Linked DNA regions of Homo sapiens. The protein of the gene in region 1 purifies or fractionates together with the protein of each later gene. This does not show direct contact. Each region holds a gene or a part of one and is shown on either strand. Other genes may lie near its edges. The genes, in order: GPN1, RPRD2, RPRD1A, NBEAL2, WIF1, A2ML1 and KSR2.

What was found.
Region 2: the proteins of GPN1 (region 1) and RPRD2 purify together in Homo sapiens (affinity purification with mass spectrometry, with the first as the bait; one large-scale study listed by BioGRID). This does not show direct contact.
Region 3: the proteins of GPN1 (region 1) and RPRD1A purify together in Homo sapiens (affinity purification with mass spectrometry; 2 studies listed by BioGRID and IntAct, with this or other methods). This does not show direct contact.
Region 4: the proteins of GPN1 (region 1) and NBEAL2 purify together in Homo sapiens (tandem affinity purification; one large-scale study listed by IntAct). This does not show direct contact.
Region 5: the proteins of GPN1 (region 1) and WIF1 purify together in Homo sapiens (co-immunoprecipitation; one large-scale study listed by IntAct). This does not show direct contact.
Region 6: the proteins of GPN1 (region 1) and A2ML1 purify together in Homo sapiens (affinity purification with mass spectrometry; one large-scale study listed by BioGRID and IntAct). This does not show direct contact.
Region 7: the proteins of GPN1 (region 1) and KSR2 purify together in Homo sapiens (co-immunoprecipitation; one large-scale study listed by IntAct). This does not show direct contact.

What each region holds. Positions count from the first base shown.
Region 1 is NC_000002.12:27,635,550-27,639,049, forward strand, and holds part of GPN1 (GPN-loop GTPase 1), read left to right. Parts: intron 1-2,660; coding exon 2,661-2,706; intron 2,707-3,335; coding exon 3,336-3,482; intron 3,483-3,500. UniProt on the Homo sapiens protein: Small GTPase required for proper nuclear import of RNA polymerase II (RNAPII). May act at an RNAP assembly step prior to nuclear import.
Region 2 is NC_000001.11:150,367,147-150,370,646, forward strand, and holds part of RPRD2 (regulation of nuclear pre-mRNA domain-containing protein 2), read left to right. Parts: intron 1-3,500.
Region 3 is NC_000018.10:35,991,942-35,994,559, reverse strand, and holds part of RPRD1A (regulation of nuclear pre-mRNA domain-containing protein 1A), read left to right. Parts: intron 1-1,259; coding exon 1,260-1,409; 3' UTR 1,410-2,618. UniProt on the Homo sapiens protein: Interacts with phosphorylated C-terminal heptapeptide repeat domain (CTD) of the largest RNA polymerase II subunit POLR2A, and participates in dephosphorylation of the CTD by RPAP2.
Region 4 is NC_000003.12:47,003,666-47,006,933, forward strand, and holds part of NBEAL2 (neurobeachin-like protein 2), read left to right. Parts: intron 1-150; coding exon 151-311; intron 312-411; coding exon 412-728; intron 729-829; coding exon 830-925; intron 926-1,306; coding exon 1,307-1,431; intron 1,432-1,515; coding exon 1,516-1,656; intron 1,657-1,823; coding exon 1,824-1,954; intron 1,955-2,072; coding exon 2,073-2,182; intron 2,183-2,280; coding exon 2,281-2,398; intron 2,399-2,499; coding exon 2,500-2,597; intron 2,598-2,667; coding exon 2,668-2,784; intron 2,785-3,268. UniProt on the Homo sapiens protein: Probably involved in thrombopoiesis. Plays a role in the development or secretion of alpha-granules, that contain several growth factors important for platelet biogenesis.
Region 5 is NC_000012.12:65,065,806-65,069,305, forward strand, and holds part of WIF1 (wnt inhibitory factor 1 precursor), read right to left. Parts: intron 3,100-3,500; coding exon 2,959-3,099; intron 1,986-2,958; coding exon 1,890-1,985; intron 932-1,889; coding exon 836-931; intron 1-835. UniProt on the Homo sapiens protein: Binds to WNT proteins and inhibits their activities. May be involved in mesoderm segmentation.
Region 6 is NC_000012.12:8,846,621-8,850,120, forward strand, and holds part of A2ML1 (alpha-2-macroglobulin-like protein 1 isoform 1 precursor), read left to right. Parts: intron 1-889; coding exon of another isoform or gene 890-928; coding exon 929-1,078; intron 1,079-2,099; coding exon 2,100-2,294; intron 2,295-3,048; coding exon 3,049-3,139; intron 3,140-3,500. UniProt on the Homo sapiens protein: Is able to inhibit all four classes of proteinases by a unique 'trapping' mechanism. This protein has a peptide stretch, called the 'bait region' which contains specific cleavage sites for different proteinases.
Region 7 is NC_000012.12:117,962,491-117,965,990, forward strand, and holds part of KSR2 (kinase suppressor of Ras 2), read right to left. Parts: intron 1-3,500. UniProt on the Homo sapiens protein: Location-regulated scaffold connecting MEK to RAF. Has very low protein kinase activity and can phosphorylate MAP2K1 at several Ser and Thr residues with very low efficiency (in vitro).

The DNA.
Region 1 (3,500 bases):
GCTGGGTCTGTCATCCCTACACTTGGGAGGCCAAGGTGGGAGGATCGTTTGAGCTTGGGAGTTTGAAACCAGGCTGGGGAACATAGCAAGACTCTGTCTCTACAAAAAATGTTTTAAAATTAGCCAGCGTGGTGGCACGCCCTTGTAGTCCCAGCTACTTGGGAGGCTGACGTGGGAGGATTGCTTGAGCTCAGGTGGTTGAGGCTGTAGTGAGCCATGATTGTGCCACTGCACTCCGGCTTGGGGCAACAAGAGCCTGGGGCAACGAGAGAGAGAGAGAAGAATAGAGTCCTCTGGCCTAAATGATGCTGGTAGAGTGAAATTGTAACATGAGGAGATACCATGAATAAGAAGATTTATCCATAATTGTAAAATGCACAGGTGGCCAGGCATGGTGGCTCATGCCTATAATCCCAGCACTTGGGGAGGCTGTGGTGGGAGGATCGCCTGAGCCCAGGAGTTTGAGACCAGCCTGGGCACCATGGTGAAACCCCATCTCTACAAAATATACAAAAAATTAGCCAGGGATGGTGGTGTGTGCCTGTAATCCCCGCTACCTGGGAGGCAGAGGTGGAAGGATTGCTTGAGCCTGGGAGGCCAAGGTTGGAGTGAGCTGTGATGATGTCACTGTACTCCAGGCTGGGCAACAGAGTGAGACCCTGTCTCAAAAAAATAAAATGCACTGGTTTGCCCCAAATGTGGCACCATTAGCAGAGGAAGGGCATGCCTCACTAGATTAGTGCATTAAGACTGAGGAGCAAGGCTGACAGTTATTAAAGCTGAGAGAATTTAATTTTGAGGGTACACAAATGCCATCACCAACATTTGTCTTTTCTGATATGACAAGGGATGTCCCTTTTTGGTGGATGCAAGAAATTGTGATCCAAATAGAAATCTGAAGATTGACAGCATTATTTCATTTTCATATTAATTATTTATTTATTTATTTATTTATATTTTTTCGAGACGGAGTCTTGCTCTGTCACCCAGGCTGGAGTACAGTGGCACAATCTCACCGTACTGCAATTTCCGCCTACTGGGTTCAGGTGATTCTCCTGCCTCAGCTTCCTGAGTAGTCACCACACTTGGCTAATTTTGTATTTTTAGTAGAGTCGGGGTTTCACCTTGTTGGCCAGGCTGGTCTCAAACTCCTGACCTCAAGTGATCTGCCCGCCTTGGCCTCCCAAAGTGCTGGGAATACAGGCATGAGCCACTGTGCCTGGCCCATTTTCATATTAATTGTTTAAAAGAAAATTATTTGATTTGCCTGATAGTGTTAATCATTTCTTTTTAAAAAAATTAATTAATTTATTTTTAGAGGTGGGGTCTCGCCATGCTGCCCAGGCTGGTTTTGAACTCGTGGGCTCAGGCAGTCCTCCCAGCGTGGCCTCCCAAAGTGCTCAGATTACAGGCATGAGTCACACCCCCAGCTGGTAATCATTTCATGATGAAACATACAGTTGATCCTTGAACAATTTGGGGGTTAGAGGCGCCAACCCCTGCAGAGACCAGCCGGGGCACCATGGTGAAACCCCATCTCTACAAAATATAAAACTTTGACTCCCCCCAAACTTAATTACTAAAGGCCTACTGTTGATTGGAAACCTTGCTGGTAACATAAACAGTAGATTAACACACATTACATATATATTATATGTATTATATGCTGTATTCATATAATAAAGCTAGAGAAAATAAGGGGAAGATATATTAACTGTTCATTAAGTGAAGTAGATCGTCATAAAACTCTTCATCCTAATCGTCTTCACTTTGAGTAGTCTAAGAGTAGGGGTTGGGTTTTGCTGTCTCTGGGTGGCAGAGGTGGAAGAAAAGGTGCATATGAGTAAACCTTGCAGTTCAAACCTATGTTGTTTAAGGGTCAACTGTGTATCAAAATATCCCTTTGTACACCTTAAATATATATAATTTTTATTTGTCAACTATACCTCAATAAAGGTAGGGGTAGAAACATTTTTAAGATGTTACTTTACAGATTGAAAAAAATTTTAATATTCTTTTCCCAGCCTTATTGAGGTATAATTGACAAATAAAAATTGTATATATTTACATGTTATTTGTAAAGAATAAAGGAGATAATACTTATGAAAGTGCTTATTAGCACAGTGCCTAGACTATACAGATTGAGCATCCCTTATCCAAAAATTTGAAATCTGAAATGCTCCAAAATGTGAGACATTCTAGACACTGACATGACACTCAGAGGAAATGGTTATTGGAGGATTTTGGATTTTCAGATTTGGGATGCTCAACCAATAAGTATTTACAAATATTCCAAAATCTGAAATAAAAAACACTTCTGGTCCCAAGTATTTTAGATAGGAAATTCTCAACCTGTAATAGGTATTCAGTAAATGTTCATTTCCTTCTCTGAAAAATACCAATTTGGTTAAAAAACAAAACAAAAACAAGTTCAATATTAAGGCATTATTACTTCAAACAAGAGTGAGAGTGTGTGTGTTGCTTCTGGGTGGTAGTTGTTTTCCTGTTGGCAGAGACTATATGATGTTATGTAAAAATGGATGACTACTTTTTAGATTCTGAACTCATTTCTGTTCTCTTACTTAGTCCCGACATGCTGACACTGGATGAGCAAGAGCTTATGTGCTTTTACTAATAACTTCTCAATGTTTGGTTTTCAGCATCTTATACAAAACCAAGCTGCCTTTCATTGTGGTCATGAATAAAGTAAGTGTATTCTTCCTGTTGTGATTCACCATTTTTCATCAGAACCTTGTGGTTAGAAGGTTTAGGTGGGTGAGAAAGATTATTTCAGATGCTGGAGACCAGATTCAGGCTTTACTGAAACAAATTCATAGGCACTTCGAGAAAATGAATCAATCAAATTGAATGAGCAATTATTACCAACTCTTGTCTAAAATTATTTTAGGCTAGGTAGAGTAGCACTTCAACCACAGTATGTAGATTATCCCTCAGAGTCAAGATTGTGTAATTACGAGAGGGACAACTAGTCTACTGGAAGTGGCAATTAAAAAATTCTAAACTTCTCTGTTGGTTGATGGCTAGGATGCAAGAGACCTTTTGACTTCAGAGCCTAGAATGTGCTGGTGTCCATTCTGGTCCTGGTACTTGGCAGTGGATAGTGGAGGGTCAACCAAGAGAATACACATCTTCATTTAATTACACTGACTACACAATGATTGTGGTTCTTTGTGGCTTGTTGCAATGGAGGGGAAATAGAAGCAGAGAAAGAAAATATATGGATGATATGTTCTTTGCTGTCAACACTTAATTAAAAGAATAAATTTTGCGTTTGTTGGCTCTGGTTGCTCATAATTGACTTCTCTCTGGTACAGACTGACATCATTGACCACAGCTTTGCAGTGGAATGGATGCAGGATTTTGAGGCTTTCCAAGATGCCTTGAATCAAGAGACTACATACGTCAGTAACCTGACTCGTTCAATGAGCCTGGTGTTAGATGAGTTTTACAGCTCACTCAGGGTAAATTTTCTCTCCTGC
Region 2 (3,500 bases), on another chromosome or scaffold:
TCTAGTGGAATGGAATTTAACTTTCTAAAATGATTAAGGGTAATTTTAGTCGTTTTGTATTTACATTTAATGAACTTCACTGGTCTCATTGTAAATAAAGCGTTTTGAGAGAAATATTCAGCAGAATGGTGTGGGGCGCAATGAAAACAGTTTATGCATGGGCCTTGTTTTCATTTAAGTTCTTATTTCTTTACAGTTATACTTAGTTTACTCTGAGTTTGGTTTCTAAGTCAGCTTTAGGAAAAATTGTGAAGCAGGTATCTTTGGACTCTGAGTTTGGTTTCTAAGTCAGCTTTAGGAAAAATTGTGAAGCAGGTATCTTTGGCATTCCCAGCCTTTCTGTCCATTTTCCTGATGCCACTTTGCTTCTCTTTTTTCTTCTGACATCCGTTATTTAGTAATTTATATTTATATTTAGACCTCAGTATAAATTTAAGTAACTATTAGATTCCAGAGATATTTTAATTTTATCCTTTATTTCAGTGTGTAATGAGACTTTTGTTCATATAAAAGGAAATAATTTAGAGAAATAGGCTATCTAAGGATATGTTCCAGAGATATTTTTATTTTATCCTTCTTTACTTTTTTTTTTTTGAGATGGAGTCTCGCTCTGTCGTCCAGACTGGAGTGCAGTGGCGCGATCTCAGCTCACTGCAACCTCCACCTCCAGGGTTCAAGCAATTCTCCTGCCTCAGCCTCCCAAGTAGCTGGGATTACAGGCACGCACCACCACGTCCAGCTAATTTTTGTATTTTTAGTAGAGACAGGGTTTTACCATGTTGGCCAGGGTGGTCTCGAACTCCTGACCTCAGACCATCATTTTCTAAGGTGATCTTTCTGTAGCATAAACAAATGTCATTCCTCTGCTTTAAAACCCTGCAGTGATATCCCATTGCAACAAGTTGAAGGTCTGAATTTCTTTTACATTGATCTGTAAGTCCTGTACCATCTGCTCTGCCTACCTCGGGCTTCTTCACATCCTGCCTCCTTCTCATTGTTTAGATCAAATCTCAACTATTACCTCCTCAGAAAGACCTACTTTGATCACCTTATTTCTTGTTTTTTTTTTTTTTTTTTTAATACGGAGTCTTAATAGATTTTTTTAAATTACATGTATCTGTTTTTTATTTATTTTAAATTAATTTAATTTAATTTAATTTTTTTGAGATGGAATTTCGCTTTGTCGTCCAGTCTGGAGTGCGGTGGCGTGATCTCAGCTCACTGCAACCTCTTCCTCCCAGGTCAAAGTGATTCTCTTGCCTCAGCCTCCTGAGTAGCTGGGATTACAGGCGTGCACCACTAAGCCCAGCTAATTTTTTTTTTTTTTTTTTTTTGAGACAGAGTTTCACTCTTTTCACCCATGCTGGAGTATAATGGCACGATCTCAGCTCACTGCAACCTCCGCCTCCCAGGTTCAAGTGATTCTCCTGCCTCAGCCTCCCAAGTAGCTGGAATTACAGGCATGCGCCACCATGCCTGGCTAATTTTTGTATTTTTAGTAGACGCAGGGTTTCACCATGTTGGCCAGGCTGGTCTTGAACTCTGGACCTCAGGTGATCCACCTGCCTCTCAGCCTCCCAAAGTGCTGGGATTACAGGTGTGAGCCGCCGCACCCGGTACCTGGCTAATTTTTGTATTTTTTGTAGAGACAGGGTTTCACCATGTTGGCCAGGCTGGTTTTGAACTCCTGATCTCAGGCGATCTACCCACCTCAGCCTCCCAAAGTGTTGGAATTACAGGCGTGAGCCACTGCACCCGGCTTCGCTTTATTTCAAGTAGTGCCTTCAATTGCTGTCACATCATCTTATTTTCAGTATATGATATTACCTTGTTTGTTACACGTTTATTGTCTGGCTTCCCTCCACCAGATGACAAGTTTGTCTTATTTGTTGCCCTGTCCCCAAACAACTAGGATAGTGCTGGCGTACAGTTAGCAATCAGTAAATGTTTGCCAACATAATGTGAAATAGCTAATCAAGAACTTAAGGAACAGAATTGCTTTAATTTCTGTTTATCAGAAGGAAGCATTTATAATTTAGTGAAAGAAATTACAGGTGCAGCAGTTGGAGGCATATGGACTTGATGTGCAATTTGCCCAGATTATCATTTCTGTACTTCGTTCTTCTTTCTCTCTTTTCTGTGGGGAGGTGGGGGAGGGACAGAGTCTGGCTCTGTTGCCCAGGCTGGAGTGCAGGGCATGATCTCCGCTCACTGCAACCTCCGCCTCCTGGGCTCAAGCAATCCTGCCACCTCAGCCTCCTGAGTAGCTGGAACCATGCCACCACACCTGGCTAATTTTTTTTTTTTTTTTTTTTTTTTTTTTTTTTTGAGACGGAGTCTTGCTCTGTCGCCCAGGCTGGAGTGCAGTGGCGCGATCTCGGCTCACTGCAAGCTCCGCCTCCCGGGTTCACGCCATTCTCCTGCCTCAGCCTCCCGAGCAGCTGGGACTACAGGCGCCCGTCACCGCGCCCAGCTAATTTTTTTTTTTTTTTTTTTGTATTTTTAGTAGAGACGGGGTTTCACCGTGGTCTGGATCTCCTGACCTCATGATCCGCCCGCCTCAGCCTCCCAAAGTGCTGGGATTACAGGCGTGAGCCACTGTGCCCGGCCTACACCTGGCTAATTTTTATGTTTTTGTTTTTGTTTTTTTTTGATGCAGAGTCTCACTCTGTCGCCTAGGCTGGAGTACAGTGGCGGAATCTCGGCTCACTGCAACCTCCATCTCCCGGGCTCAAGTGATTTTCATGCCTCCGCTTCCTGAGTAGCTGGGATTACAGGCACATGCCACCACGCCCAACTAATTTTTGTATTTTTTAGTAGAGATGGGGTTTCACCATGTTGGCCAGACTGGTCTCAAACTCCTGACTTCAAGTGATTCGCCCACCTCAGCCTCCCAAAGTGCTGGGATTACAGGCGTGAGCCACCACGCCCGGCCAAATTTTTATGTTTTTTGTAGAGACGAGGTATTGCCATGTTGCCCAGGCTGAACTCTTGGGCTCAAGCTATCTGCCTGCCTTGGTCTCCCAAAGTGGTAGGATTACAGGCGTGAACCACCAGGCCCAGACCTTCTTTCCCATTTTTAATGGTAAAATGGGAATCAATATGGAAAAATATAAAAGAGGCCTGTGTTAACATGTTAACTCCGGTCACTTAATACTGGATGACACTTTGCAAAGTACTTAAACTGTGAACCTCAGTTTTTCATCTATAAGTAGTTCTGTACCTGTAGATGAAAGTTCTACAATCTACAAGTAGAGATAATTCTGTCTGGAATTTACATTCCAGACACTGTCTACAGTGCTGGAAATTACATTCCCAGTTTGTGAGAGACGAATTGGACTAGCCTCTCTGTAGTAAATTAGCATATGCTTTGAAGAACTAGGAGGACAAAATGGAAAATATTGTGTTAATGACATCCATTTTGTCTTTTTTTTTTTTTTTTTTTTGAGACATATTCTTGTTCTGTCACCCAGGCTGGAGTGCAGTGGCATGATCTTGAC
Region 3 (2,618 bases), on another chromosome or scaffold:
TAACAGCTCCGATATCCACCTGCTTATGAAGCCTGAACCCTCATTATTCCTCACAGCAGAACCACAACCAATTCCTGCTGATTTTTCTTTCTAAACATTTAGTCTTTGACATTAAGGTATTATTTACATATAATGTAGTTTTTAAAGGACATTGCTCTATCCTTACTACTGTTGGTTTGGTTCGGTTCAGGCCCTAGTCCTTTCTTTCCTGGAGAGTTGCAGTAAACTCCTAGCTGGGTTTCTTCCTTAGATGTTTCCTCATCTATGCACTCTCTAGGATGGTCCTCTCAGGACTTACCTGTGACCACATTTGGAAAGAGCGTGAATCTCCCTGCCTTGTGCCATGCACTGTGGTAATAGTGAATTGCCATGGACATATCTATTTTACTGCCTGCTACTTCCTTAGACCAAATCTTTGAGTCAGGACCCTGGAACTGAGATGGGTATAGTGGGAAGCTTTTCTCTGAGTGATACCCTGTTGTGGGTGCTGAGCTTTTGGAGAAAGGGAGGGGTGCAGCAGCCTGAGGTTGTCTTGGCTTGCCTCTTCTGCTGTGGAGCCACCTTCCTCATGAGTTGGGGGTGAGGCTTATCAGGGCCCAAGTATTCTCAGTCCTCCACGCATAAGAAGGAACTTCTTTTCCAGGAGTGGGGGCTGGACAGGAGGGAGTCCCCAGGCTCTTCCCTGCTCTATCTCAGGACTTAGCTTCAGCACCAGGTAGTTGGGGTAGGATGAGAGGCGCTCTTTCTGGGAATAAAACCCTCCCACTGGGAGTTGCAGGGAGAGTGATCCTGTATTCTTGGCTGCAGCAGTCTGGAGTGGACCCTCCTTGCTTAGATGGGAGGGCACAGGAAGGGAGCAGTCCTGCTTCAGACACCACAGACTCTGGCCATTCCTACTGAGTTTTCATAGATGTTCTTGCCAAATTTTAGTTAAGGTTTATGAAAATAAATATGTAATTTTTCTTGCCCAAACTCAAGAATACCTGAACATCTTATATGTCGAGGTTAAGCACATTAATGTTAGTCTTCTTTCTACTGGTGTGAAGCAACAGCTAAAGATTGTGGTTTTTCTTAATAATAATAGTTTACTAGTTATATATTTCCAAAGCTCATCTTTTGATGTGAAAACTCACACTGGAATAACCTTTTTAAATATGGCATTAACTGAGTATATATAGTACCTGGGTTTATGTAGGTCATTATTAGCTAGGAAGTTTTTTCAATCCCTGAATGCTAATGAAAGTGGTTTGATGTTACAGGAGTACAAGCGCAAGCTAGCCAGAGTTTCCCTGGTGCGCAAAGAACTCAGGTCCCGGATCCAGAGCCTGCCAGACTTATCTCGATTGCCCAATGTCACTGGCAGCCACATGCACCTGCCCTTTGCGGGAGACATCTACAGTGAAGATTGATGGACCAGCCTCTTTCCAGGTCCCAGGACTTTGCAAGAGATGGAGACAGGTTAGGTGGATAGTCCTGTAGTGTTATTTTTGTATATTGTTGAGAAAGAAACACTAACAAAAGGAACAACGAGTAATTTATAAAATTGTTTAAAATGTTGGTTTGTTTACTATTTTATTGGTAAATTAACATGACTTAATTTGAACAAAGTGATGATTTGTGTGTATTAATAAGCTCACAAATAGTGATTATTTTCAAAAGATCTTTTTGTAAATTTTTTTTTTGATCCAAGGCCTTGTGAGAAATCTCTTGTTTGTATTTCTTCAGGTATTTTCAATTGTTTTTCTTTATTTTCTTCAGCATTTAATCACTGTATACTATGTAATTCCTGAAGGGGAAGAACTAATTAGGAGTTGATTGAGACTTTATTATGGTATAGTTAGGACTTGATTGTAGAAGGGACTAAATGTTCCAACATAATCTTTACCCTTCTCCCCAAACAAAATATCAATTCTGTGTCTCTACATGCCTTTGATTCCTTAGAGGTCGGTAATTTAACATAAAACAGGGATGTCACTTTGAGGGGCAGATGAAAGTCTAGAGAACTGTTCCTTAATAGCATTGTAAAAGTTCCATTCCAACTGCCAGTGTAGATTTTAAAAGTGTTAAATAGTGACTCCCTTGATTAAACTGTTTGTAATTATTTGAGTAGATTAATAATGAAAATACTTTGGAAATAATATACATTTTGACATTCTACCAAGAGGACAACTTTGGTTCTGGAACTGGTTTCTATTTGTCAAATCAGTTTCCTTTTAACATAATTAATCCCTTTAACAAAAAGCCGTCTATGGGATTAAAAGACACGTGAAATGATACTTTTATTATTCCCTTGCTCATATAACTTTAAAAATAATACTTTTAGCTCTAATAGCTCAAGAACACAATATTCGTTAATGTTCAGTAAAGTAGCCTGAGACATTTTCAATGTTTCCTTAAGGTTTTTGAATGACTGTATATTTGGCAGTTAAGCAGTGCCACACTACAGGGTAGATATGGTAAATTTTATATTTGTATATTTACAGTTACAAAACAAATGTACTTTTACCTTTTATTTCTGACCCTGTGTGTTAGAGCAGTTGCATGCTCTCCTGCTGTTAAAAACACATTGTTAAGCTGTGGATTTGTACTCAATAATGACTTAGGATAAACATTTATTT
Region 4 (3,268 bases), on another chromosome or scaffold:
CAGTAGGTTCTGGACCCTAGGCAGCCCCTCCCCATCTCTGGGAGTCATGAGAGTATATACCCCATGACTCAATGGCACTTGGATGCCCTTTGGGCTTGTGAAGAAGGGGGTCCCAGAGCCTACAGCGTGAGGTGGGTTGCTGGTCTTTAGGATGGAGGCAGCAGAACTGGATGAGCAGCGTGAGAAGCTGGTGCTGTCGGCCGAGTGCCAGCTGGTGACGGTAGTGGCCGTGGTCCCAGGGCTGCTGGAGGTCACCACACAGAATGTATACTTCTACGATGGCAGCACTGAGCGCGTGGAAACCGAGGAGGGTGCGTCCTGGTGGTGTGGTTTAGGAGGATGGCAGGGAATGGCTGAGCTCTGGGTGGGGCTGGGGTGAGTGACTCCCGTACCTGCTGTTCCTCCCCATAGGCATCGGCTATGATTTCCGGCGCCCACTGGCCCAGCTGCGTGAGGTCCACCTGCGGCGTTTCAACCTGCGCCGTTCAGCACTTGAGCTCTTCTTTATCGATCAGGCCAACTACTTCCTCAACTTCCCATGCAAGGTGGGCACGACCCCAGTCTCATCTCCTAGCCAGACTCCCAGACCCCAGCCTGGCCCCATCCCACCCCATACCCAGGTACGGAACCAGGTGTACTCGTGGCTCCTGCGCCTACGGCCCCCCTCTCAAGGCTACCTAAGCAGCCGCTCCCCCCAGGAGATGCTGCGTGCCTCAGGCCTTACCCAGGTGAGAGCCCTGGGTGTGAGGGATGTGAAGTCGGGACCCTGAATCACGGGGCAGTGCTGGACAGCCCACCTGGCTCACATCTTGTCTGCCCCTGTCCCCAGAAATGGGTACAGCGTGAGATATCCAACTTCGAGTACTTGATGCAACTCAACACCATTGCGGGGCGGACCTACAATGACCTGTCTCAGTACCCTGTGGTGAGGGTCCCACTCTGCACCCCTCCACCCCTGCCCCTCTGACCTGTCAGCCCTTGGTTCCCCCAAGTGTAGGTACCTGCCAGTGGGCCAAGCTCTGAGCTTGGTCAAGGGTAGATGTGCCAATGAAGACCTGGCCTCTGTTCCCTGCCAACCCCCAGAGGTCCCCAGCCTCACTCCCTTCCCCTCCCTGCCTAGCCTCTATTCCTCAAAAGGAATCCTGTTCCAGGACACTCTGTCCTTCTCCCCTGTGACCCCTCTAAGTGGTGCTCCCCCAACCTGTGGGCAGGCTCTGTGCCCGCCTTCTTGAGGGTGTGGGCAGGGCAGGGTGGGCTGGTAGGCCATCAGGGCCCTCATGCAGCCCCTGCTCGGGTGGGTGGCCAGTTCCCCTGGGTCCTGCAGGACTACGTGTCCCCAACCCTGGACCTCAGCAACCCAGCCGTCTTCCGGGACCTGTCTAAGCCCATCGGTGTGGTGAACCCCAAGCATGCCCAGCTCGTGAGGGAGAAGTGAGCATGTGGGCAGGGCTGGGCTCAGCGGGTAGGGAAAGGCGAGGGGAGGGCTTCTGCTGACACGTCCAACTGTGGCCCCAGGTATGAAAGCTTTGAGGACCCAGCAGGGACCATTGACAAGTTCCACTATGGCACCCACTACTCCAATGCAGCAGGCGTGATGCACTACCTCATCCGCGTGGAGCCCTTCACCTCCCTGCACGTCCAGCTGCAAAGTGGCCGGTGCGGCCCAGGGGCTGGTGGGCAGACTAGGGGGCAGATAAGGGGAGGAGGCTGGTCCTCCCCACATCCTGGGCCCACCCCTGGCTCCCTTCTTCCCTCCAGCCACAGCATCTCCCTCCCTGTCTCCATTCTCCCCACCTCACCTTGGCCCCGTGCCCCTCCCCCAGCTTTGACTGCTCCGACCGGCAGTTCCACTCGGTGGCGGCAGCCTGGCAGGCACGCCTGGAGAGCCCTGCCGATGTGAAGGAGCTCATCCCGGAATTCTTCTACTTTCCTGACTTCCTGGAGAACCAGAACGGTAGGTGTGAGGTGCTCACACTGGAGCGGGCAGGTGTAGGGATGGAGAGCAGATGGTGGAGTGGCCAGGGGGCAGTCGGGATGGACAGGGAGACAGCTGACCCAGTCCTCTGTGCCAGGTTTTGACCTGGGCTGTCTCCAGCTGACCAACGAGAAGGTAGGCGATGTGGTGCTACCCCCGTGGGCCAGCTCTCCTGAGGACTTCATCCAGCAGCACCGCCAGGCTCTGGTGAGGAAGGAACCACAGGCAAACGGCAGGCAGCCGGGGTTCTGAAGATCATGGGGGGTCAGCTGTCCCTGCACTGATTGCTGCCTCCCTACTCTCAGGAGTCGGAGTATGTGTCTGCACACCTACACGAGTGGATCGACCTCATCTTTGGCTACAAGCAGCGGGGGCCAGCCGCCGAGGAGGCCCTCAATGTCTTCTATTACTGCACCTATGAGGGTGGGCAGTGCGCTGGACTCCAGTCAGGGCCAGGACAAGATCAGGTCGGGTGGATGCAGAGGGCACGCAGGGAGCCCTGACTGCTCTGCCTGCCTTCCCAGGGGCTGTAGACCTGGACCATGTGACAGATGAGCGGGAACGGAAGGCTCTGGAGGGCATTATCAGCAACTTTGGGCAGACTCCCTGTCAGCTGCTGAAGGTAAGGCCAGCTTAGAGGATAGTGGCCAGGGATGCCCATGCCATGGTGCTGACCAGCCACTTACCCACAGGAGCCACATCCAACTCGGCTCTCAGCTGAGGAAGCAGCCCATCGCCTTGCACGCCTGGACACTAACTCACCTAGCATCTTCCAGCACCTGGACGAACTCAAGGCATTCTTCGCAGAGGTGAAAGGAAGACAAGACCTCAACTTTATATTCTGTGAAATGGGTTTAACCCCACTGTCCTTACCAACCACGTGGGGCAGATGGGAATCCTAATCAAGGTCACTGATTTCAAGGCACCTTAGAAAATGAGCTAAACATGGGAAGAGTATGGGGGCAGGAGGGGTGCCTTCTTCATCAGGGCCAGGATAAAGTGTCGACTCAACAAGCTCTGAAAGCCTTAGGGAGATCAGGAGGGAGATCTGTCCTTGGACCCCTTCCATCGCCTTCCTAGACAGGAACATTCCTGAATGTTGCCCCCAGGCCTGACTTTTTTTTTAGGTTTCCCTCTCTTCCTGCCTTTGGGCTAGGGGGACAAGGAATAACAGGGTGAGAGGACCAAGTTGAAACTAAGTGTGATACTCTGGAAGCATCTTCCATGTCTGTCCCAGCTTCTCACCCACTTTCTGAGATGCCCTCCTAAAGTCTCTGCCTGTTTCTTGGAGGG
Region 5 (3,500 bases), on another chromosome or scaffold:
AACTGGGCAAAATAAACAAGTCTCTTGTAAAGAGTATGAATCGTTCAGCAATTTTAGGGCCAAGTTTGAATTCACTTACTAAGAGTAAAATCTGGCTGTGTTGCTGCAATGTTAAGAAGGAAGAACCTAATCTCTCTGGGATGTGATTTGTGAGCAGAGTATTGAATCGGGAGTCAGTAAACTTCTAGGTTAGGCAATGTAGAGCAGGTTGTTTAATTTTAGCCTTAGAAGCTCACCCACAAAACCAATTTAGGACATACTAAAATTCCATGTGGCAAGACCAGCTAATTGTTCACAAAAATTTGCACTCCCGTTATGTAATATGAGATGTCAGTGGGAGACCACTGTCCAGCCAGGGGCAACATTTCTTCTGCCTGAAACCAGGTAGGACCATGAGGCTAATTCCTACCTATGGAATAGGTGTGGAAGTTTTGTGGGTAAATTCTGGGCCAGGGCTTTTAAATTTTTTAATTAATTAATTTATTTTTAGCAGTGCTTACTTCAATCCTTCTCTGCCTATTGGCTGGATCTAGAGAGTTCCAAAGCTCTAGGCAGGACCACAGATAGATGGTGCCTGGGCTCCTGAGTCACTGCATGGAGAAGAGCTGCCCTGCCCACTGACCAGGCAAAATGCACTGGAGCATTCTGTGAATGAAAATAAACTTTTGCTATTATGCTACACTAAAATTGGGATTTCAGTTACTATAGCAGCCATCTTTACCCTAAGCCATACATTCTCAGAGCTGTTATGAAGAGTGAGGACATATAAAGTAACTTATTCTAATCAAACATTTTAAAAGTAAAAATAACTTTCTTCTTAAAAAGAAACTGTTACCTTTGTCACAGTTCACTCCATAGAATCCAGGTGGGCAGATGCAGAAACCAGGAGTCACACAAAGTCCACCATTCATACATCGTGGGGTACAAAGGGCTTATAGGGAGAGAGAACCCTGATTAAGGCCAAATGGTATTTTGGAGCAGGACCATTTTGAAATGTCAATAATACAACAGGTCTACATTTTCAAGCTTTGTGGTTGACTCTAAAATGATTACTCTTCAGAGATACAAGTTTGCTATATTAATATTATTTTTGTGGTATAAATTAGGCTGTTTTTCAATTTCTCAGCCAATTTCTTAGAGATGACTTTTGGATTGGTTCCATTTGAATACTTGAATAAATTTTCCCCAGAATCATTTTGACTAAGATGTGGTCTTCTTAAAACTGTTAAATATTTTCACTTTGCCCCATTTGCTTAATCTTCTAATTCCAACATAAATGCAAAGAAGAAAAATAAGAAAATATTATTCTTTCTTACTTATTTTAAAATTATTTTTTAACTGTCTCTCACAGGATATTCTTATTTCTTGAAGATGAAAAATATTTTGCTTACTGTAGTCAGATAAGCTCTTAGTATTTAAACATCTTATGATTAATATTCATTTCCTTGCTTATGTCTTTTTTCATTTATTTTTAAAAATTAATTTCCCTGAAATTGATGTACTTACTACACAAATTCATCCACTTTTTTGCCTTATCATAACTTCATAACTTAGATATACTCTTAGTTGTGAATCAAGCTACTTTCAACTGGAACAATTTCAGATCAGTGGTGATACTAGCTTTTTAAATCCAACTTAAGAGGAGGAAAAAAACCTCAAAATTTTCATAAGATTATGCCAAAGTACAGTGGCTATATTTCTGAAGCGGGATGAGTTGGGGGAGATGGCCAGGAATGGCCACAGAAAGTGATGGCATTGTGCCAAAATTTTCTGCCCCTGTGACCAGGAAAATAATTTCAGGTGTTAAAAATACACAATACACATGGGGCTCCTGCACGACATCCATGTTCATTAGGAAGGGAGCAAGGGAAATCGGCTCCATGTCTTACCTTTCTCACAGTGAGGTCCGTGGAACCCATCAGGACACTCGCAGATGCGTCTTTCATTACAAAAGCCTCCATTTCGGCACCCGCCTGGGCACTCAGCTTCAGCAGAGAGAAACAAAGCTTATATGGACACCCTTGAAATCATGTTGGGTGAATCACAGCCAGTGTGAGACAGTAGTGTTCATTTCTGTTCTAGCCCACCAATTAATCATAATTGATCAAATACCAGTACTTCCAACTCATTCCCTCGATATCACTTGGATTTCACTAAATCTGCTGCAGAGTAAGATTTTGCCTCCCTTATTTCCAACAGTAGGGGGCTCTTGGAAGAAGGTAAGGCAAATTTTATTCTGCCTTCATCTCCTCCTATGGATCTACTGTACCTTGTTAAATTCCCACTGCAATTGAATGAATGGTATTGCCTTTCCCCTTTCAGAGGGTAAGATGACTTATGGGTACATCTTTAGAGCACTGAAATGCTCCAGAGCTTAAATTCTGAGCTAGAAAAGCTTGTATAGGGATGTGAAAGGAGCCAGGCCTTTATAGTTAAATGGGCATCTGGGGTGTGGTGGGGAGGTATTGAGTGAGGCCTTGACCTGGTAGGGATCACTGGCATGAGGTGGCAGTCTGTCCTCCGTGGATATTCATTAGAGGTTATATTAGTGTTGCCTTTGGGACAAGTGGGAAGTGCTGGTAATTATGAGCCACCTTGCCTTGAGCAAACAGAGCAAGAAAGGGGGAAATTCATGACCACGGGTGAGATACACTGGGACTCCCAACAACTGTGTTGGAGGAGTGGAGAGGGAGGAAGAAAAGGTGTTTTGAAACGTTTCCTATTCCTAATATTAAAAGTGGGGTCAAGGTCAGAGGAAGTCTATCTTAGTACTGTTGCTAAATCCTGTGCTGATCATCTCCTCCTTCCGTTGCTGTAGTTATAGAGCCATCATCCAAAAAACCATGTGTGTGTGTGTGTGTGTGTGTGTGTGTGTGTGTGTATAGATATAAATATTTGGTCCAAATCACACCTAAGCCCTTACAACATGTCTTCTCTTGAATCACCATCGGTGCTTACCTTGTTGACATGTTTTAAAGAAGATAGCATTTTGAGGTGTTTGGAGAATGGTGTTGCCTTCAGAATTCATAACAATCACATCCACTTCAAATGCTGCCACCCCATCCTGTTTTCCAAGACATGGGAAACCAACTTGAACAACTAAAAGAAAAAAAGAGAAAGTGTGGAGAAATAGTTAATCTAGTTGATTCTAGTTTTACAGAAATCTTGGGAACCAAGAGTCAAAGGACAAAGCAAAAATGTTCACATGTTGTGGATTTCCTTGTATCTCCACTGGAGTAGGAACTGTATTTTGAGCATCTGGGCTCCACAGAAGTTGAGCATCATGTCAGGTGAAGAAAGAGTGAATGACTCCAATTTTTACCTCATTAATATGGAATTGGTGATATTCTGTTCACAGTCTGGACTTGTACTATCTTAAATATTTTCCCTGGAAATTAAAGATGGAAAGAAGAATCATAAAGTGGTTAATTATGTATACGTCAGTGTAGCATGGGAAGAACAGAAAGACAAACGAAAATAAATAAAAAGCAGTTGATTCG
Region 6 (3,500 bases), on another chromosome or scaffold:
ACCAGCCTGGTGAAACCGTGTCTCTACTAAAAATACAAAAATTAGCCAAGCATGGTGGTGGATGCCTGCAATCCCAGCTACTTGGGAGGCTGAGGCAGGAGAATTGCATGAACCCAGGAGACGGAGGTTGCAGTGAGCAAAGAACACACCATTACACTCCAGCCTGAGTGACAGAGTGAGACTCTGTCTCAAAAAAAAAAAAAAAAATTAGTTGAGTGTGGTGATGCATACCTGTAGTCCCAGCTAGTCGGAAGGCTGAAGCAGGTGTATCGCTTGAGCCCAGGAGTTCAAGGCTGCAGAGCGAGACCCTGTCTATTTTTTTTATTTTTTATAGACAGAGCTTTCCTCTTGTTGCCCAGGCTGGAGTGCAATGGTGCGATCTCGGCTCACTGCAACCTCTGCCTCCTGGGTTCAAGTGATTCTCTTGCCTCAGACTCCCGAGTAGCTGGGATTACAAGTATGCACCACCATGCCTGGCTTTTTTTTTTTTTTTTTTTTTTGTATTTTTAGTAGAGACGGGGTTTCACCATGTTAGCCAGGCTGGTCTTGAACTCCTGACCTCAGGTCATCCACCTGCCTTGGCCTCCCAATGTGCTGGGATTACAGGCATGACCCTGTCTCTATTAAAAAAAAAAAAAAAAAAAGCCATACTGGGAAGCCACATGTTCTATATAGTTATTCCACATGTTCTCTCTACTTTTTGTCTTCTAAACTTTCTCTATCCTTCTACTGTGCTGCTCACGTTTCCCAACTCTATCACGGCATACACGTCCTGAAGAGCTAGACTTTACAAAGAAAGATAAGTACAAAAGTGAAAGAATGGGTTGGATGTCATAGCTGGGGCATATTTGCTGATGACCCAAATTATGTTGTTTCCCTTCCTTTCCAGGCTGACCTGATCCCCAAGTTATACCTTTCCCTTCCCCAGGTTTCCCTTGGCTTCTCCCCCTCCCAGCAGCTTCCAGGAGCAGAAGTGGAGCTGCAGCTGCAGGCAGCTCCCGGATCCCTGTGTGCGCTCCGGGCGGTGGATGAGAGTGTCTTACTGCTTAGGCCAGACAGAGAGCTGAGCAACCGCTCTGTGAGTAACTGTCTGCTGACAGAGTGGGAGGAGGGAGTTGATGGAGAAGACAATTAAGAGGTAGGTTTCAGGCAGGGGAGAGAAAGTCTTAGGGAAATAATGCACTGCCATAAGGCGGTAAAAAGGCTGGTGTGAAAATGAAGTTAGAAAGTGTAAGAGGGCTGGGCACGGTGGCTCACGCCTGTAATCCCAGTGCTTTGTGAGGCCGAGGCTGGCAGATCACCTGAGGTCGGGAGTTCGAGACCAGCCTGACCAACATGGAGAAACTCTGTCTCTACTAAAAATCCAGAAAAAAAAAAAAAAAATTAACTGGGCATGGGCCCATGCCTGTAATCCTGGGGAGGCTGAGGCAGGAGAATCACTTGAACCTGGGAGGCGGAGGTTGTATCATTGCCCTCCAGCCTGGGCAACAAGAGCAAAACTCTGTCTCAAAAACAAAAAAAAAAAAACAAAAACAAAAAAAGAAAGGATAAGAGAAAGGCATGGTTAGTATGAATGCAGAGACAAGAAAAGAGAATGAGCCTGTAATCCCAGAACTTTAGGAGACCAAGGCAGGCAGATCACCTGAGGTCTGGGGTTCAAGACCAGCCTGACCAACATGGTGAAACCCTGTCTCTACTAAAAATACAAAAATTAGCCAGGCATGGTGGCGCATGCCTGTAATCCCAACTACTCAGGAGGCTGAGGCAGGAGAATTGCGTGAACCCGGGAGGCAGAGGTTGCAGTGAGCCGAGATCGTCCCACTGCACTTCAATCTGGGCGACAGAGCAAGACTCCGTCTCAAAAAAAAAACAAGAAAGAGAACGAAATAGGGGATAGGATTATGAAAAAATAGGTGAGATAGAGGTTAAAGTTTTAGACAGTGAGAAAGGTAATTATGACAGAATGAATATAAAAATAATTCTGAAGTAATAAAGAGAAATGATACAGGAGTAGTGAACTGAGCACCAGAATCTGAGAGAAGTTTCTCAACTGATATCACTATATCAATGCTTTATTTCCTCTCCCCCTCTTGTCCCAGGTCTATGGGATGTTTCCATTCTGGTATGGTCACTACCCCTATCAAGTGGCTGAGTATGATCAGTGTCCAGTGTCTGGCCCATGGGACTTTCCTCAGCCCCTCATTGACCCAATGCCCCAAGGGCATTCGAGCCAGCGTTCCATTATCTGGAGGCCCTCGTTCTCTGAAGGCACGGACCTTTTCAGCTTTTTCCGGGTAGGTCTTCTTACCCATTTTGTTCTTATGGGAAAGATGGTGGTGGGAATGGGCAAAGGAAAGTTCATATCTAAGAAAGCAGAGAGACTCATATGGGCACTGATGGGAACAAAATCTTGAAAGAAGCTTCTGACGTGTAAGGTCGCCTCTGTTGGCCCTTATGCTTGAAGAAGATGTCCAACCTAGTCTTCCTCTTTTTGTTGTCCTCAAACACTGATTTCCATGAGATCAATCAGGAGGGAAAATTAGAGAAGGTAGACCAGAGGTCTCTTATCATTATTATAAAAAATAATTTGCACCTATTCTATGAGCAGGATTTGGGATGCTGTGTGACCCAAGTCTGACCAGGAGGTCCCTGAGGTCAGGAACTAGGTCTTGTTCATCTTTGTATTCTCTCTAATGCCTGACCCTTCATAAGGCTCATTGTATTTTTGTTGAATTGAGTACGCTGATATGGTCCCTACCCTCAGCATGTTTACAGCGTAAGTCAAATAGTAAGGACATAGCGAATAATATTTGGCAGAACCATTACATGTATGTAATGATGAAATAAGTTTAACTGAAAGCCTTTCATGCTAGCTGGAACAGAAGCCAACCAGCCTCAGTGGCTGAGTTTCAGGTAAGAACACCCAGGTTCACCATTAATTCAAAAAGAATGTTTTGTTTCAACTCTTTGATGGTGGAATTCCTGGGCAGTAGCCCTTGTAGTTGGGGAAGGGACCACCTTAATACTTATTTCTCTGATGCCTATCAGGACGTGGGCCTGAAAATACTGTCCAATGCCAAAATCAAGAAGCCAGTAGATTGCAGTCACAGATCTCCAGAATACAGCACTGCTATGGGTGGTAAGCCACCTCTGTGGTCTGTGGATTCTCTGAGATGTTAACAGTCCTGGAACTCTGCAGATTTCCTCTTGCCTCCTGTTCTTGCACTGAGCCTCTAGCCCGAGAATGCTAATGGGTTGTGGGTCACAGATGCAGGACAGTTTCCCAAGTGTTCTCTCTCTGGGGAGAGCTTTTGAAGCCTGAAGCTTATGTATCCATTCCCCGGCCAAACCTCCTTGGCTATCACTTCCCTCGATGGCCTTTGTGACTAGTTAGTTCCTCTTTGGTCCTTCCTCCTTGCCTCTGACTGGATGTTCTCTGCTTCCCTCTAAATTTCTTTCTAGTAATCCCTCCATCCCAATTTATGTCACAACAAGAAGTC
Region 7 (3,500 bases), on another chromosome or scaffold:
CTGGAGTGCAATGGTGCCATCTTGGTTCACTGCAACCTCCACCTCCCAGGTTCAAGTGATTCTCCTGCCTTAGCCTCCCGAGTAGTTGGGATTACAGGTACCCGCTGCCATGCCCCACTAATTTTTGTATTTTTAGTAGAGACGGGGTTTCGCCATGTTGGCCAGGCTGGTCTCAAACTCCTGACCTCAAGTGATCCACTCACCTCAGCCTCCCAAAGTGCTGGGATTACAGGCGTGAGCCACTGTGCCTGGCCACCATCACCTGTTTTTGTAAGGCCCAGAAACTACAGTTTGTACAACTATAAACATCAAAAAAAAAATCAAAAGAAAAATATTCATGACATGCAAAAAGTATATCAATTTCAAGTTTCAGGGTCCACAAATAAAGTTTTATTAGAAAACTGCCCCACCAGGCCCGGCTTGATGGCTCACGCCTATAATCCCAGCACTTTGGGAGGCTGAGGTGGGCGGATCACTGGAGGTCGGGAGTTTGAGACCAGCCTGGCCAATAGGCTGGTCTGAAACCCTGTCTCTACTAAAAATACAAAAATTAGCCAGGCGTGATGGTGCAGGCTTGTAATCCCAGCTACTCAGGAGGCCGAGACAGGAGAATCACTTGAAACTGGGAAGCGGAGGTTGCAATGAGCCGAGATCACGCCACTGCACTCCAGCCTGAGCAACGGAGCGAGACCCTGTCTCAAAATAAAAAGAAAACTGCCCCACCCATTCATGTATGTACTGCCCATGGCTGCTACATGCTACAGCACAGAGTCGAGTAGCTTTGATAAAAATTGCAGGGTCCACAAAGCCTAAACTCTTTACTATCTGTCCCTTTCCAGAAAAAGTTTGCCAGCCCCTGCCGTAGGCTGCCATCCAAGGCAGGCGAATCACTTGAGCCCAGGAGTTCAAGATCAGCTGGAGCAACATAGCAATACCTTGTCTCTATTTAAAAAATACAAAAAATTAGCCAAGCGTGGTGGTGCATACCTGTAGTCCCAGCTACTCAAGAGGCTGAGGCAGGAGGATCTCTTGAGCCCTGGAGGTCAAGGCTGCAGTAAGCCATGATCGTGCCACTGCACTCCAGCCTGAGTTACAGAGTGAGACCCTGCCTCAAAAAAAACAAAACAAAAAAGCTTATACTTTTCTATTGTATGCATTCCAAAACCTTTGAAGACTTCTATCTCCTTCCACAAAGGGATGAAACGTTGTTGGTCTGACTCTCTAATCTTTAGTTGGATCCCAGAAGTTAGTGGCCTAAATTCATTTCCTATGACAGGCTACCAGGTACCCTCCATTCTGGGCAAAATGGTCTCTAGGCTGCCCCATGAAGGCATTCAAATACCTTCATCTGGTTTGTTGTTCTTGTCCAGCATGCTCTCCCCTTTTGCTGCAATCTAAACCCTCCTCATCCTTCACTCCAAATCCCCATCTCCCCAACCAAGAAGGTTTCCCTGCTTTGCCAAATGTTTTCCCAGGTGTATCCTATGGAACAAAAATCCCAGGAGAAATCCTTGGGCCGGGTGCAGTGGCTCACGCCTGCACTTTGGGAGGCCGAGGCGGGCAGATCATCTGAGGTCAGGAGTTCAAGACCAGACTGGCCATCATGGCAAAAGCTCGTCTCTACTAAAAACACAAAAATTACCAGGGCATGGTGGCGGGCATCTGTAATCCCAGCTATTTGGGAGGCTGAGGCAAGAGAATCACTGGAACCCAGGAGGCAGAGTGAGCTGAGATTGCGCCACTGCACTCCAGCCTGGGTGACAAGAGCGAGACTCCGTTCTATCCTCTCTTGGAGGCCTAATACACATAGGTAGCATATTAAAGGCTCTGAGAAAAGTCCTGCAGTAAAGATGCCTGTTTCCCTTTGCTTAACTCAACCCTTCCCAAACTTATTAACCACAGAATTTGTTTTGTCCACAGAACACTTATTGACTACCAGCATTAAGTACAGTGCCTGGATGTCAGCATTTGTTGAAAGAATTAAAAACGCTAACATCCCACAGATTTAGGGTTCTACAGAACATACTTTGGAAATGCTACTCAAGCTCCTCCTTCTCTCTGTCCAATCTGAACTGCTCCCTTCCATGCCATCTAGTCAACACCATGTAATGCCAATCATTATCATCATCACAGCTGTCATTCATTTAGCACCTGCAGCCACTCTGTTCCAGATAGTGCTAGACCCTTGAAAACGTTATCTCTTTCAATCCTTATAACCATCCTCTGAAGTAGGGAATATTATTTAATTATTGCTGTTTTGCCAAAAACTTAAAACTATAAATCAGAAAACTTAAATCACTAGCCCAAGATAAAGTAAAAAGACAAGCTAGAATTTACAACTATATCAGTCTGACTCAACGTTCATGAACTTTCTTTTCCACCAAAATATCTTCTGACTATGTGCCATGGCTGCCATCGCTGGCTGTCCACTTACTTAATATCTACCTATGCCTCCTTCCACACTAGCAGAGCCCTGATTTTGCATGGAGTGGCAACATGTCATTTCAGGCAATGGATCATGATCCATCTAAGCCGATCCTGGTGGTGGTCCCACTTCCCCACTTCCCGGGCTCCCTTGCAGCTAGGACTCAGTTCTGGCCAAGAAGATATAATCAAATCATCTGCAAGGTGAGGAGGAAGAGATGTCCTGGGGAACCCTTTATTCCTTCACACTCACCAGGTCCTCCTCTTTCCTACCTTGAACTCAGATGTAATCGCTGAAGCTGCAGGAACCATCTTGCAACCATAAGAGAAAAGCCATGAGAATTCCCAAAGACATCAGCCCTGGTATTACTAACCTACTGAGCCAACTGAAGCAGCTATATGTCTCCAGAATTCTTGTTACATGAAGAGAAACCATTATTTGCCTTACTGCTAGGATTGGGTTTTCCATTTCATGCAGCTGAACACATGCCTAATGGGCTCACACATTGTCCCCCATATTATTTACCACTTAGACTTTATCATTATTTCACATACACATTATTATATCATGAAGTATGCTTCCTGAAGGCCAAGTCCACCTTGCATATTTTTGTTTCTACAGAAGTGTATACATGCTATTAAGTGCTGTTCATTATCACAGCACTGTTCAGGGATCATCTATTCAATTTATTACTTGCATTAGTGTTAGCAAGCAGTGAGTTTTCACCATTAAAGAGCTGAAATATCACATCTTTCTCCTAATGGTTTAGCATCTCAAAGTGTCCATTTGAAAACATGTATCAGAAATACCTGGACTGTTTATTAAACGCAGATTCCTTGACCCTCTTGCTAATCCCAGCTAAACTAGAATCTCTAGGGTTAGAGGCTAAGAATCTGCATTTTAACAAGCACCCTCATATGGTTTTGATATACAAAATTAGAAAATTCCGTGGACCCAAATGTTAGCGTTGGCTGGACTTGGCTGGACCCTAAGTTACCAGCCCCTCTGCAGGGGCCCTCCCTAACCCTGCAAATCTGGGAAATACAAATTGGAATAATTGCTCAAGAGCATTCCC